2 separate regions of the Homo sapiens genome follow, and region 1 is linked to region 2. The links come from fine-mapping of genetic effects on plasma protein levels. A gene starts in region 2. The other region holds a variant in brackets. All regions are shown on one strand. Distances are between the middles of the regions. Region 1 overlaps SPINK5 (serine peptidase inhibitor Kazal type 5). Region 2 holds the start of SPINK5 (serine peptidase inhibitor Kazal type 5).

Region 1 (4,851 bases), 60 kb before region 2:
CTAATGGAATTTCACTAAAGCAGCCCATTCCTTTAAAAACTATATATATATATATTGCAAGCAAGATTATATATATATATATATATATATATATATACACATATATTGCACCACTGCACTCCAGGCTGGACAACAGAACAAGATTACATATATATAACAAGATTATATATATAGATAGATAGATAATATATATCTATATATATAATATATTATATCTATCTATATATATATATAATCTTGTTATGTATATAATATAATCTTGTTATATATATATAATCTTGTTCTGTTGTCCAGCCTGGAGTGCAGTGGTGCAATCATAGCTCATTGCAGCCTCCAACTCCTGGGCTCAAGCAACACTCCCACCTCAGTCTGCTAAGTAGCTAGAACTACAGGCATGTGCCACCATGCCTGGCTAATATTTTAAAATTTTTTGTAGAGACGGGAGTCTCTCTGTGTTGCCTGGGCTGATCTTAAACTCTTGGCCTCAAGTGATCCTCTCGCATTGGCCTCCCAAAGCACTGAGATTACAGGCATGAGCCCCCAGTGCCCTGTCCCATCTCATTTTAATACCATTTTCTATGAGGCAGAGCCCCAAACCTGTCTCCCTATGAGTGCACTCAGTATTCCACACATAAGTCTACTTCAAAAGCCCTGGAATGAACTAAACGACACTCTTCTGGCAAAACATAAAAACACGTAAACTTTCAGCTTCATTTCTCAACCACAATTTACCAAAAAAAAAAAAAAAAAAATTATTGTGCGAGGTGCTTTATCGTGTGGTTTAATAGATTTCCTTTAGTGGTTGTAAAAATCTTATAAGATAAATACGCATCATCCCCATTCTACAGATGAGAAAAATAAATCTCAGAGCTATTAAATAAAGTCAGTGTTGAATTTGTGATCAGAAACCTGCTAACCACCAGGTTATACCTTTTTACTTATTTGCTTTTACAAGTCAGAGAATAAAACTCCTATGTGTGGATAAGTATATGGAGCTGCCTTTTGTGTTCATTGAAACATAATGATCATAAAAAGAAGCCAATAGAACCGAGTCTACAGATAGGATCTAGAATGTACTAAAATCTTCAGAGAGCTACAGAAGTCTCTGGAACTTCCTGTAAGCCCAAAGAGCCAAAGTGGTGATATGGAAACATTACCTTAAAAAATAACACAGTAACCTAGATTGTACTTACCCTTCTTTCTTTAAATTGTGATGTCCGTAAACAAACAATTCCAGGCCTTACTTTTAATTGCAGCATTTTAAAAAATTCTCTGGAATTAAATACCTATCAACATATTAAATGTCTCACAACCACCATTTTCACAAATTACTGGAAGTATTTTCTTTTCCAGGTGCTCACAATACCACATATTTTTATAATAGCACTCCTCTGACTGTATTGCAACCCTCCAATTCAGTCTTTGGCTCTTCTATTCATTAATTATGTGTAGTTCACTTCTCTTAAGTTTTCCTGAATTCTAAAAAATTGGAACAATATCACCACTGAATAGATTTTGGGGAGGTTTAAATATAATTATTGGTAAACCTTATTTAACGTTGCATGTGTAGATAAAACGGTAGTTCTCTATTTGACACACACACACACACACACACACTCACACACAATCTCAATATTTTTATTTTTTTTTTAAGACAAGTTCTTACTCTGTTGCCCAGGCTGGAGTGCAATAATGCTATCATAGCTCACTGCTGCCTTGAATTCATGGGCTCAAGTGATCCTCTCACCTTAACCTCCCAAGTAGCTAGAGTTACAGGTGTGCACCATCATGCCTGGCTATTTTTTTTTTAATTATTATTATTTTGTAGAGACAGGGTCTCACTATGTTGCCCAGGCTGGTTTTGAACTCCTGGGCTCAAGCAATTCTCTTGCTCTGGTCTCCCAAAACACTGGGATTAAAAGAGTGAGTTACCACACCCTGCCTCCATATTTTCTTTATTTTTTTTTTACTCAGTATTTTCTATATATAAATATATATAGCATTTTTCTGTTCAAAATTTTTTAAATAAGGATCATAAAATTAAAAATTTACCAAGATTTTAAATAGATGTCCTTTAGAGATCATGTGAAGTTGTGCAATAAGGTTATTTTCTCAAAGCCATTTCATCTACCGTAACACACAACAGATATTCCCAAAATATTTTTAAATAATGATAATTACTAATAAGGTTTCATTTTCTTTAGCCACTACAGGCTTAATGAAAAGTTGCCCTACTAATAGGAAAAATCTTCCCAGGGAAATTTCGCTATTTATCTTTTCTAATTGGAGTCCGTCGGTGCATTAAAAGATTGTGCTGTGTAATATTCTACGTGTTGGTGTTGTAGTGTTGAATACTATTTATAAGGACCAAAACTGAACACTAGGTGGCAATGAAATGCCAGATCAAGAATTTATTATCTCAAACTCCAACTTTTCTTCTTTTTCTTTTCCTTTTTTTTTTTTTTTTTTTTTTTTGAGACAGAGTCTTGCTCTGTCGCCCAGGCTGGTGTGCAGTGGCGCTATCTCAGCTCACTGCAAGCTCGCCTCCCAGGTTCACGCCATTCTCCTGCCTCAGCCTCCTAAGTAGCTGGGACTATAGGCGCCCGCCATCGTGCCCGGCTAATTTTTTTGTACTTTTAGTAGAGACGGGGTTTCACCGTGCTAGCCAGGATGGTCTCGATTTCCTGACCTCGTGATCTGCCCGCCTCAGCTTCTCAAAGTGCTGGGATTATAGGCCTGAGCCACCGTGCCTGGCCTCAAACTCCAAATTTTTGATACTGATTTTCTTTGTAATTTTTGGCATCTGATTGCTTGATATTTATTTGTTTAAAAAATTCAGAAACAGCAGAGTGCGATGGCTCATGTAATCCCAGCACTTTGGGAGGCTGAGACTTGAGCTCCGGCAAATTGCTTGAGCTCAGGAGTTCGAGACCATCCTGAGCAACAGCAAGACCCTGTCTCAAAGGAAAGAAAAAATTCAAAAATGAAATTCACTGGCTAACTACAATAATTTGACAGTTGTCACTGGTTCTACAATTGCATCAGAGTCACTCCTGGGGAACTGAAGAGCATGCTATTTATTTTCAAGATCTGGCCATGACTTCATTGTTTACCGTTATATCACCAATGATTGGGACAGAGTCAGCATTTCACAAATATTTGTTGAATAAATATACCATACAATGAACTAACTGAATTCAGGTATTAGCGTGTCTAACATCTATTACCTCTTTGTCATTGCTCCTTTCTCCTGTATTGCTCCTTTCTCCTGTATTGCTCCTGTCTTCATCCTCTTTCTTTTTTTTTTCAGCTGCTTCCCTTTCCCTGGGGGGAAAACAATGAAACATTTCAATCAAAGTGAACAAACGCCTCATTAATTACCAGATCTGCTTCTAAAACAATTGTCATTTTCCCAAACTGGTAAGAAATGATTATTGTACTTTAAGACTCACAGTCAAAAGCTCATTTTGAAACATACTCACAGTTTTTCCTTACACATAGTACACTTATTGCCATGTGTCTTGCCATCTGGACCCCGGACAGGGTCACTTTCTCGAGTGCAGATGAGTTTTCCATTTTTCATTTGGCTTCTAAACTCATCACATGTATCCTGAAAAGATGGGAAGATTATATTGGAAGTGCTGTTTTTACATAATATTTGATTGGATTTGAGAATCAGAGGATTTCTTTCCAAGAGTCAGGCAGCCATGTAACCTTGCTGTGATAGGCAAAATAATGTCCCACAGAGAGAGACGTCTATGTTCTAATTCCTGGAACCTCCAAATATGTTGCTTTACGTGGCAAGGAGGAATTATGGTTGAATATGGAATTAAGATTGCTAATCAGTTGAATTTAAAATGGGGAAGTTACCCTGGATTATCCAAGTGGGGCCCATGTAATCACAAAGGTTCTTACTCATTAAAGAGAGAGG[C/T]AGCGGCAGGACAGTCAGTGTGAGAATGATAAAGCATAAGAAGGACTTGACTGGCCATCACTGGCTTAAGGGTGGCCACAAGCCAAGGAATACAGGTAGCTTCTAGAAGTTAGAGAAAGCAAAGAAACAGATCCTCACCTAGAGCCTCCACAAAGGAATGCGGCATTACCAACATCTTGGTTTTATCACAATCAGACCATTTAAAACTTATGGAATCCAGAAATATAAGATAATAAATGTGTGTTATTTTACGCATCTGCTTATAGTAACTTACACTAGCAGCAAAATAATGCAAAAACAAAAATAAATCCCAGTATACTTGCAAAACCTCATTTTCCCTATCTACGAAATAAGGTTAAAAGGCCAAATTTGACCAGGCTGTTGAAATAATTAAATAAACTGTAATTTATAAAAATGCCTTGTAAAGTGTCAGACTTAAAGATGTCCACTTGGCATTAGGTTTCTTCACTGAACAAGTTATCAGTGAGAGTCACTGATAACTTGGTAACTCCTGACCTTCTAAGGGCAAGCTCTAGCTTGATCATGTTGACACCTTCTTCTATAGTTTTGATCGCCAACTGCTGACTCACAGAAAGACGATTCTTGCCAAAACCCAAAAAATAACTCACCTTCCCTGATTCTGATCCAGTCCCATTTGATCTGGAGCGAGAATACTCATTTTTTCTCTCTGCTTCTCTTTCCCTGGAGGAGAAAAAAGTGAATATTCATCTTGTTAACAAATATTGACCCTGGATTATGCACTAAGTGTGTCCCGTGCAAATGACAAGAAGTCAGCTTTCTTCAACTGTGCTGGTCAATGATTCCAAATGGCCGTGACAAAGTCTTCCTAGGATTCTGGCACAATAAAGAACAAGGGTCTATCATGATAGCACTTAGAGTTCACAGAATTGTAATAGAAA
Region 2 (8,390 bases):
GACCAGGAGATTAGTATATATACTCACAAAGGTCTAATCACTCAGAAAGTTACAATTACTTTGGAAAATAATACTCATGTGAATTCTAACCCCATCAAAATAGCTTATCTTCAAAAGGTCCTTTCGGAGTAATAAATGCCAGCCTCCCTTTTAAAATTACAATATAACATACACACAAAATACTATACCAATTATAATTTTGAAACTATATTATAGTTGAAACTATAATATAGCATTACATTTATAGGATATATACATAAAATTTAATTTTCTGAATTCTGGCAGCTCTACCTCCTTATTACAGCTGCAAAAGTTAGAGATCTGACAGAAGGTAAGATTAAGGTCACAGGCTATTATACTCTCTCATTAACATAGGCTCTTTTGTACCTACACACCTATTTTAGGAAAATGGGCATTATTTGTATATGATTTCAGACTATCTATGAGTTTCTCTTTTTAAAAATTTTAATGTTTCAGAGCAACGTAAGTCTAGGCAATTTGTGTTCTCTTAGGGTTAAATAGCAAATATAAAAATCTACCTTCCAGCTCCCACAAAAGTCCCTCACTCTTTGGGAGAAATGCTTTCAACCCATTTAGCATTTGAAAACACAAGACTAAAATAAGCTAGAAGATACCACTGCTTTAAAATAAGAACAGATGATTGAATTTTAAAAAATATTTCATTTATACCTATAACATTAAAATACATATATTATTTACAATTAAGTTTTAAATGTCTATTACATATATAAGAATATGCATTATGAATTGATACATTTAGCAAGAGGAAGATGAAGAAGAATCTATTCAGTTTTCTGAATTAATAAAGAATTAATGGAAGAATTTCTCATGGTTAGAAAATTCAGATTATCTCAAACTACTTGCCATTTCTAAAGATAACAACATAATTATAAAGCCACATATATAAATCTTCAGAACTCTGTGTCTGGCAAGACATTTCAGGATTATACATGCATACGTAAACATTTTTTGGCAGGAGTAGGGGGAGAAAAGTCCCTTCCCCAGGGCTTTGAGATGTGTGGCAAGAGGCTTAGATTACACACAAATTGCTCACCTTGTATGAGGCAAAGAGCCAAGGGCAGAAGCACTGACACTGTGGCTATCTTCATGTTGAAGACGATGCAAGTCGCCTACAGGTCCACTCCATGCATTGCTCAGCTGGTGCAGTATGACTGAACTCGGGGCGATGCAGTTTACTTTTATAAAGCACTGGTGACACCCACATAAAACCAGTTGTTCAAGGTCATGGGACTTATATACCACACCACTTTAGCTTCCATCCTTTAGGATCCTGTCAGGGTGTCAGGTTTGAACAGAGAATATCTATTTCTAAAGTAGGAATGTTCTTTCATGGTACCTCCCCCAGAACGCAATTGATGGAGTCCACAGACCCTACTCAAAGTTGAATATTCTATAATCCTATATAATAACCGAATTCCTCAGAAATACCAGATATACTACCTCGTAGACAAACATGTTTCTGACTGGACTCCCTTCATAAGTGGGAGAGGAGAGGAAAGGAAGACAGATTGGTTGTCCTACCAGTCAGGTATAGATTTAAAGATTTCCACATCCAGAGAAATCCAGGGTTCCTGTTCTGAAGTGTCTGAGTTCAGTGTCACAGACTCATATATATGTTAGAGTTGAACGACCCTAAAAGATAACCTGGCAAAATTCTAATGTTGAATATATAGGGAGGCAGGAACTCAGAGGAGCAATGACTTTCTCATAAGCAGACAGTTTAGTTGGAGCAGGCAGAGGAGGCATCCAGCACTTGCAAGCAGACCACACATATAACATTCTTTCCTCTCTGTACACTGCTTCATCCTTAGACATTAGAAAAGGCAGGAACGTTGGAAAAATAAAACTTGTATGTAACTACTTTTAAAACTTCTCAATCTGCAGGATATTTTATATTCTGAAGCCTTATTTTATATCCTAGCCAAACATCATAATCATAAACATTGGAGACTCAGTTTAACTTTCCATAGCCTATGATTACCCATATTACCGTTTGAAAAATTTGGCTCAATCAGTTTTCTCTAAATCATATTTCTTCCTGTATCATCCCATTATTTAGTCTCCCAAAAAGAAAAGAAGAAAAAAGTTGTTAACAATTATAAATGTGTAAATGTAACATTTTTCTAGAGAAAGTTTCTTCTCTTTAGTTGCTTCTTTCATCCTACAAGTAACACCTTTTTTCTACCAGCTTATTTTGCCCTAATAGCTTAAGAAAGCACCTGAAGAAACATGTGAAGATGACTGAAACCAGAGCCAAATTGTTTCATTCCAGTACTTCTCAAGATATTCACATCCACAGAAGAAAAGTTCGAGACTTTATCCAATTAAAGGCCTTTTTATGATGGTTCCAGAAAACTGATCAAAGTTGCCCAACTTAGGGAGTATGCCAATATTATGAGATTTATCACAGTGAGATAATACGTCCTTTCTTTTTTCTCTCATGAAATAATTTATTTCCTATAAAAATATAATCACTGGGCCAGGCACAGTGTATCACGCCTGTAATCCCAGCACTTTGGGAGGCCAAGGCTGGCGGATCATGAGGTCAGGAGATCGAGACCATCCTGGCCAAGATGGTGAAACCCCATCTCTATTAAAATACAAAAATTAGATGGGCTTGGTGGTACGCACCTGTAGTCCCAGCTACTCTGGAGGCTGAGGCAGGGGAATTGCTTGAACCCGGGAGGCGGAGGGTGTGTGAGTTGAGATGGCGCCACTGCACTCCAGCCTCAGCGACAGAGCAAAACTCCATCAAAAAAAAAAAAGATATACACACACACACACACACACACACACACACACACATACATATATATACACACACATATATATATATATATAAAATCATTGGTTTCAAGGTCTGCACTATTGTTGTAGCTTGGCTCCTTTCCAATGGAATAGTAAAATTAGTGACCACGGAAAGCAAGTTCAAATTCCATTATTGTTACAGGTTAGAAAATCAAAGTCCATCATAGCTTAATGGAAAGAGAATGAGACAGGGTTTCAGAAATCTGTTTCTATTCTATGTAGTCTTTTCAACTATGTAGGGATAGAAATGAACCCAGCTTTGAAGCAAGCTAGAAATGGGTCCAAATCTTGAATTGTTAGCCATGTTGCCTTGGACAAGTCACTTATTTTCTCTAAGCCTCAGTTTCCTAATATGTAAAATAAAAATAATAACACGTACATTGTACTAGTGCTAAGAGGTTTAGAGATAAATCATATATATAATGCGTGTGTGTTTGTGTGTGTGTGAGAGAGAGAGGTGCTTAGAACAATTATCAAGTTTATGTGATAAGCTTGATAGTTAATGATAGCTGGTCTTGCATTTTTACATAATTATAATAACGTGGTTGTACTAGATAATTTCTAAGATACCAAGAAAAGTAAACATCTGTTGACTGTGGATTTCACCAATAGATTTATATTTACTCAGCATAGAAAAACTACCCCAACACAATTTGAGGTGAAATTAAACTATAACGATATATGTTCTCTTTTTCCCTTTTAATTGTATTTTAAACCATAATGCCTAAACAAATCGAAACATCACCTGTTAAAACTTAACGAAAACCATTGCTCTGTTTCAATCAGCATTGATTTCTTGTCTCTTTCTCTAAAAGCCTCTTCTAAATATTCACATATCAATACTAATTTTTTATCTTTCATCTGCCCTGTCAGACCATACGAAATGTGTCCCAACCATATATTCTGTTATTGACGGTAAAAGAGTTTGATGCCTTAAAATGGAATCAATGACTGTGTATTATGCTCTAGTGACCCCTAGCCTAGCCCAAATGGAGAATATTCCCAGGAGTGGAAGTGGTGCTAGGGTGGAACAGAAGAACCAAAAGATGATTGCCTGTCTTAGGAATCTCTACTATGAGGAAACATTGAAGACATTGGTTTCCTTCTTACTGGAAAAGAGCTCCTCAGAGATGCCAGCCTTTTCTGAAATGATGAATAAAAAGTTTGAAACTGATATCTTTTCCAAATGGAGAAAGTAGTAAAAAGAAGATTCAGTGAGCACCCCCAAAATTGGAAGTACTCATCAGCTGGCTCATTTCATTAGGGCTTCTTCTCCATTTCATTTTAGGAATGTTGTAAAGCCAGAGGTGATTCATCACATGCTCTGTTAATTACTCCTCATTCCTGAAAATCACCATGAATATTACATTTAAATGAATGGGATTGAAGGTTTGGAGAACTCAGGTTTGGGTCAGAGTTAGGTTATCAAGGTATTCTTCTAACTCAAAATATCATCCTTGTTTTTAACTCTTTCAATTATTCATCAAACATGTAGAAACTTTTTTCCTCTCATTAGAAATGAGTGGGCTTAGATAATAAAAACTATGAATTTTACAACCTTACGCATTTATGAGGTTGGCAGAATCTGAAGGATACTGATACAGGGGGAGGAAATGAGAAAATTATAAAGATTGTTGTAGATCAGTAATGTTACTACAAACAAAGGTTATTTCCAAAATATAAAGTTACCATATCATTCCTAAAGTCTTCTGTTTTTCTACACAGAGGGAGCCTTGATGACGATAATAGTTAATAAATAACTATAGTCTTTTATGATTAGATCACCTTCCACAGCTTTCAAAACAACCTGCCATTCATTAGCTCTTTTGATTTGTTTATGCAGTGTTGTGAGGCAGCCAATTAGGTGTTATTATCTTTTCTTTACCAGCCAAAATTGGTGTCATAAAAGAAACCTGCAGTAGGAACTAGCTGGGATGGTCATCTCAGCCTTGACACTTTCTTACATTTTATACCTTTAATTTCTCTGAGTTTCCCCACGGCCATCTCACAGACTTTTATACCGTTCAAAGAGAATCCAGATCGAGACCATCCTGGCTAACATGGTGAAACCCCGTCTCCACTAAAAATCCGAAAACATAAAAATTAGCCGGGCGTGGCAGAGGGCGCCTGTAGTCCCAGCTACTCCGGAGGCTGAGGCAGGAGAATGGCGTGAACCCGGGAGGCGGAGCTTGCAGTGAGCCGAGATCGCGCCACTTCACTCCAGCCTGGGAGACAGCGAGACTCCATCTCAAAAAAAAAAAGAGAATCCAGACGTTACAGTGCTTTAAACTAGATACAGCCCTATGCATGCACACACACACAGACACACATACACAATCACTTGGGCAAAAAGAGGTATGTTGTGACCATGAGTAAAATTTATATATTCTAATATATCTTAAAAGATGAAATAATTTCTTTTTTATTTTTTTATTTTCTTTTCTATAATTCTAATATTTTCCCCCATCAATCTAACATGTCTATATTCTCCTGTTTGTTTGTTTGTTTTGAGGCGGAATCTCACTCTGTCCCCCAGGCTGGAGTGTAGTGGTGCAATTTCGGCTTACTGCAAGCTCCGCCTCCAGCGTTCATGCCATTCTCCTGCCTCAGCCTCCCGGAATAGCTGGGACTACAGGCGCCCACCACCGTGCCTGGCTAATTTTTTTTTTTTTTTTTTTTTTTTTGTATTTTTAGGAGAGACAGGGTTTCACCGTGTTAGCCAGGATGGTCTCGTATCTCCTGAACTCGTGATCCACCCGCCTTGGCCTTCCAAACTGCTGGGATTACAGGCATGAGCCACCGCGCCCGGCCTATATTCTCCTTTGTAAAAGACACTAACTGGAAAACAGCCTTTACTCATCTTCTTATCTGGTAATGTTGCATTACCAACTAACTTCACTCTCTCTGTAGGAATTCCTTTCTGTTTGTCTGGAAAGACTAAGAAACTAGAGATAAGCCTCTCATTTTATCTAATAATAGAATGGGATGGGCATTGTTTGTTTACTGAGTATATAGACCCTGCTATTTACAGACATAATTACTGCTTTTATTAGATTAGGATTAAGAAGACAGGAATTTCAATGTCTAATTTTTAATTGTATTAATATTTTCATATGGGTTATATTTTATTTTAGAAACAACAATCAGCTTCTCCCTATAGCTGATATTACTTGAACCCCTGACCCATGGCCCCACACTGTTTATCACTCAAAAATTTAGTGCATTTTAAAGTCTCCTAGGATTTATCCTGACAATAGAAAACAGAGGTTTGAGGAGCTACAGTCTTTCAATAAATCATAACAAATTAATCCTGAAGTACCTAAGAGTCTACCGGCCGGATGTGGTGGCTCACGCCTGTAATCCCAGCACTTTGGGAGGCCGAGATGGGCGGATCACGAGGTCAGGAGATTGAGACCACCCTGGCTAACACGGTGAAACCCCGTCTCTACTAAAAATACAAAAAAATTAGCCAGGCACGGTGGCGGGTGTCTTTAGCCCCAGCTACACGGGAGGCTGAGGCAGGAGAATGGCGTGAACCTGGGAGGCGGAGCTTGCAGTCAGCTGAGATCACTTCACTGCACTCCCGCCTGGGCGACAGAGCAAGACTCTTTCTCAAAAAAAAAAAAAAAAGTCTACCTAATTTTAGCAAAAAAGCATTGCAAATTTTATATGTGTAATATGTGTGTGTGTGTGTGTGTGTGTTTACAGTAGGGAAGAATGAAACTGTTAGATTTATAGCAAAGTTAGAAAAAGATTATCTTTACAAAATAATTTGTAGGCCGGGCACCGTGGCTCACTCCTGTAATCCCAGCACTTTGGGAGGCCGAGGCAGGCAGATCACGAGGTCAGGAGATCGAGACCATCCTGCCTAACATGGTGAAACCCCGTCTCTACTAAAAGAAAAACCCGTCTCTACTAACAATAATAAAATTAGCCAGGCGTGGTGGCGGGCACCTGTAGTCCCAGCTACTCAGGAGGCTGAGGCAGGAGAATGGCATGAACCCAGGAGGCGGAGCTTGCAGTGAGCCAAGATCACGCCACTGCACTCCAGCCTGGGTGACAGAGAAAGACTCCAACTCAAAAAAAAAAAAAATTGTAAAGAAATAAAATTTGCTAACACATTTCATGCACTTAGGTACAACAATAAATATAAAGATTAAGTATCATTTTATTCTTACAGGTAAAGCAACTGAGGTTTGGTGAGATTCTATAACTTTTCCAAGGTCATACAGCTTGTAAGCAGTGATCTTGCAAATGATCACAGTCAATGTAATAAAGGCATTCAAACTCCAGAGCCCAGCTTCTTAAACACTACACACCGTAGTAACCACATTGCCTACAACTGTAACTAATGTGTCTCAGGTACTCAATGTTAAGAGCTAAACTCTGTCTGCCCAAAATTTATATGTTGAAGCCTTAAACCCCACTACTTCAGGGTGTGCCTATATTTGGAGATAAGTAAAAGTGGTGGTTAAGTTAAAATGAGGTTATAAGGTTAGGCCTTAGACCAAACTGATTGATGTCCTTACTAGAAGAGGAAATTTGGACACACAAAAGAGACACTAGTGATGCACACACAGAGGAAAAACCACATGAGGACACAGTGGGAACTTGCCCATTACAAACCAAGAAGGAAGCTTCAGAGGAAACCAAACTTGCTGTCACTTTGATCTTGAAATTCTAGCCTCCAGAAATGTGAAAATATAATAAATTTATGTTGTTTAAGTCACCCAGTCTGTGGTATTTTGTGGCGGCAGCCATAGCAAACAATACACTCACCGTATGTATTGACCCAGTCACATGCAAACTGTGTAAAAATGTATAGACACAGTTATACGGTTGAAAATACAGTCTTATGTAGGCTCCTTTCTCTTTAAGTAACCAGTACATTAAACTTATGATCCTGTAGAATAGTGTTAAAGAGAAACAGAGCTGAATATTTATTAAAAGTGGCAAGACTCACTTTATCTGGGCTATTCCAATAGAGAAAAGAAACTCCAGTAGAAACCAAGCTCAATTCTGCTAAAACCAGAGGCAGGATGCTTTTTTAATGCTGAGGTGTGCTGTATTAGTTCATTTTCATGCTGCTGATAAAGACATACCCGACACTGGGAAATTTACAAAAGAAAGAGGTGTATTGGATTCATAGTTCCACGTGGCTGGGGAGGCCTCACAATCATGGTGGAAGGCAAGGAGGAGCAAGTCACATCTTTGTAGCAGTCAAAGAGAGATTGTGCAGAGAAACTCCCATTTTTAAAACAATCAGATCTCAAGAGACTCATTCATTATCATGAGAACAGCACAGAAAAGACCCACCTCCATGATTCAGTCATCTCCCACTAGGTCTCTCCCACAACACATGAGAATTATGGGAGCTACAAGATGAGATTTGTGTGGGAACACAGAGCCAAACTACATCATTCTACCCCTGGCTCCTCCCAAATCTCATATCTTCACATTTCAAACCTGATCATGCCTTCCCAACAGTGCCTCAAAGTCTCAACTCATTTCAGCATTAACTTAAAAGTCCACACTCTGAG

The links. PIP is the chance, under the fine-mapping model, that this variant and not a neighbour inherited with it causes the effect. Sun 2018 read protein levels with aptamers (SomaScan).
Region 1: its variant is fine-mapped to the plasma level of the SPINK5 protein (Sun 2018, PIP 0.95).

The regions. Positions count from the first base shown.
Region 1 is chr5:148,118,768-148,123,618 of GRCh38, reverse strand. It overlaps SPINK5 (serine peptidase inhibitor Kazal type 5), which reads right to left. Exons shown (of 33, transcript NM_006846.4): 24 at 4,561-4,633; 25 at 3,483-3,610; 26 at 3,228-3,324. Among named protein-coding and RNA genes, the nearest start is that of SPINK14, 47 kb to the left of the region's middle. The variant C/T (reference allele first, on the strand shown) is at 3,932.
Region 2 is chr5:148,056,785-148,065,174 of GRCh38, reverse strand. It overlaps SPINK5 (serine peptidase inhibitor Kazal type 5), which reads right to left and starts at 1,195. Exons shown (of 33, transcript NM_006846.4): 1 at 1,076-1,195. The coding sequence starts at 1,130.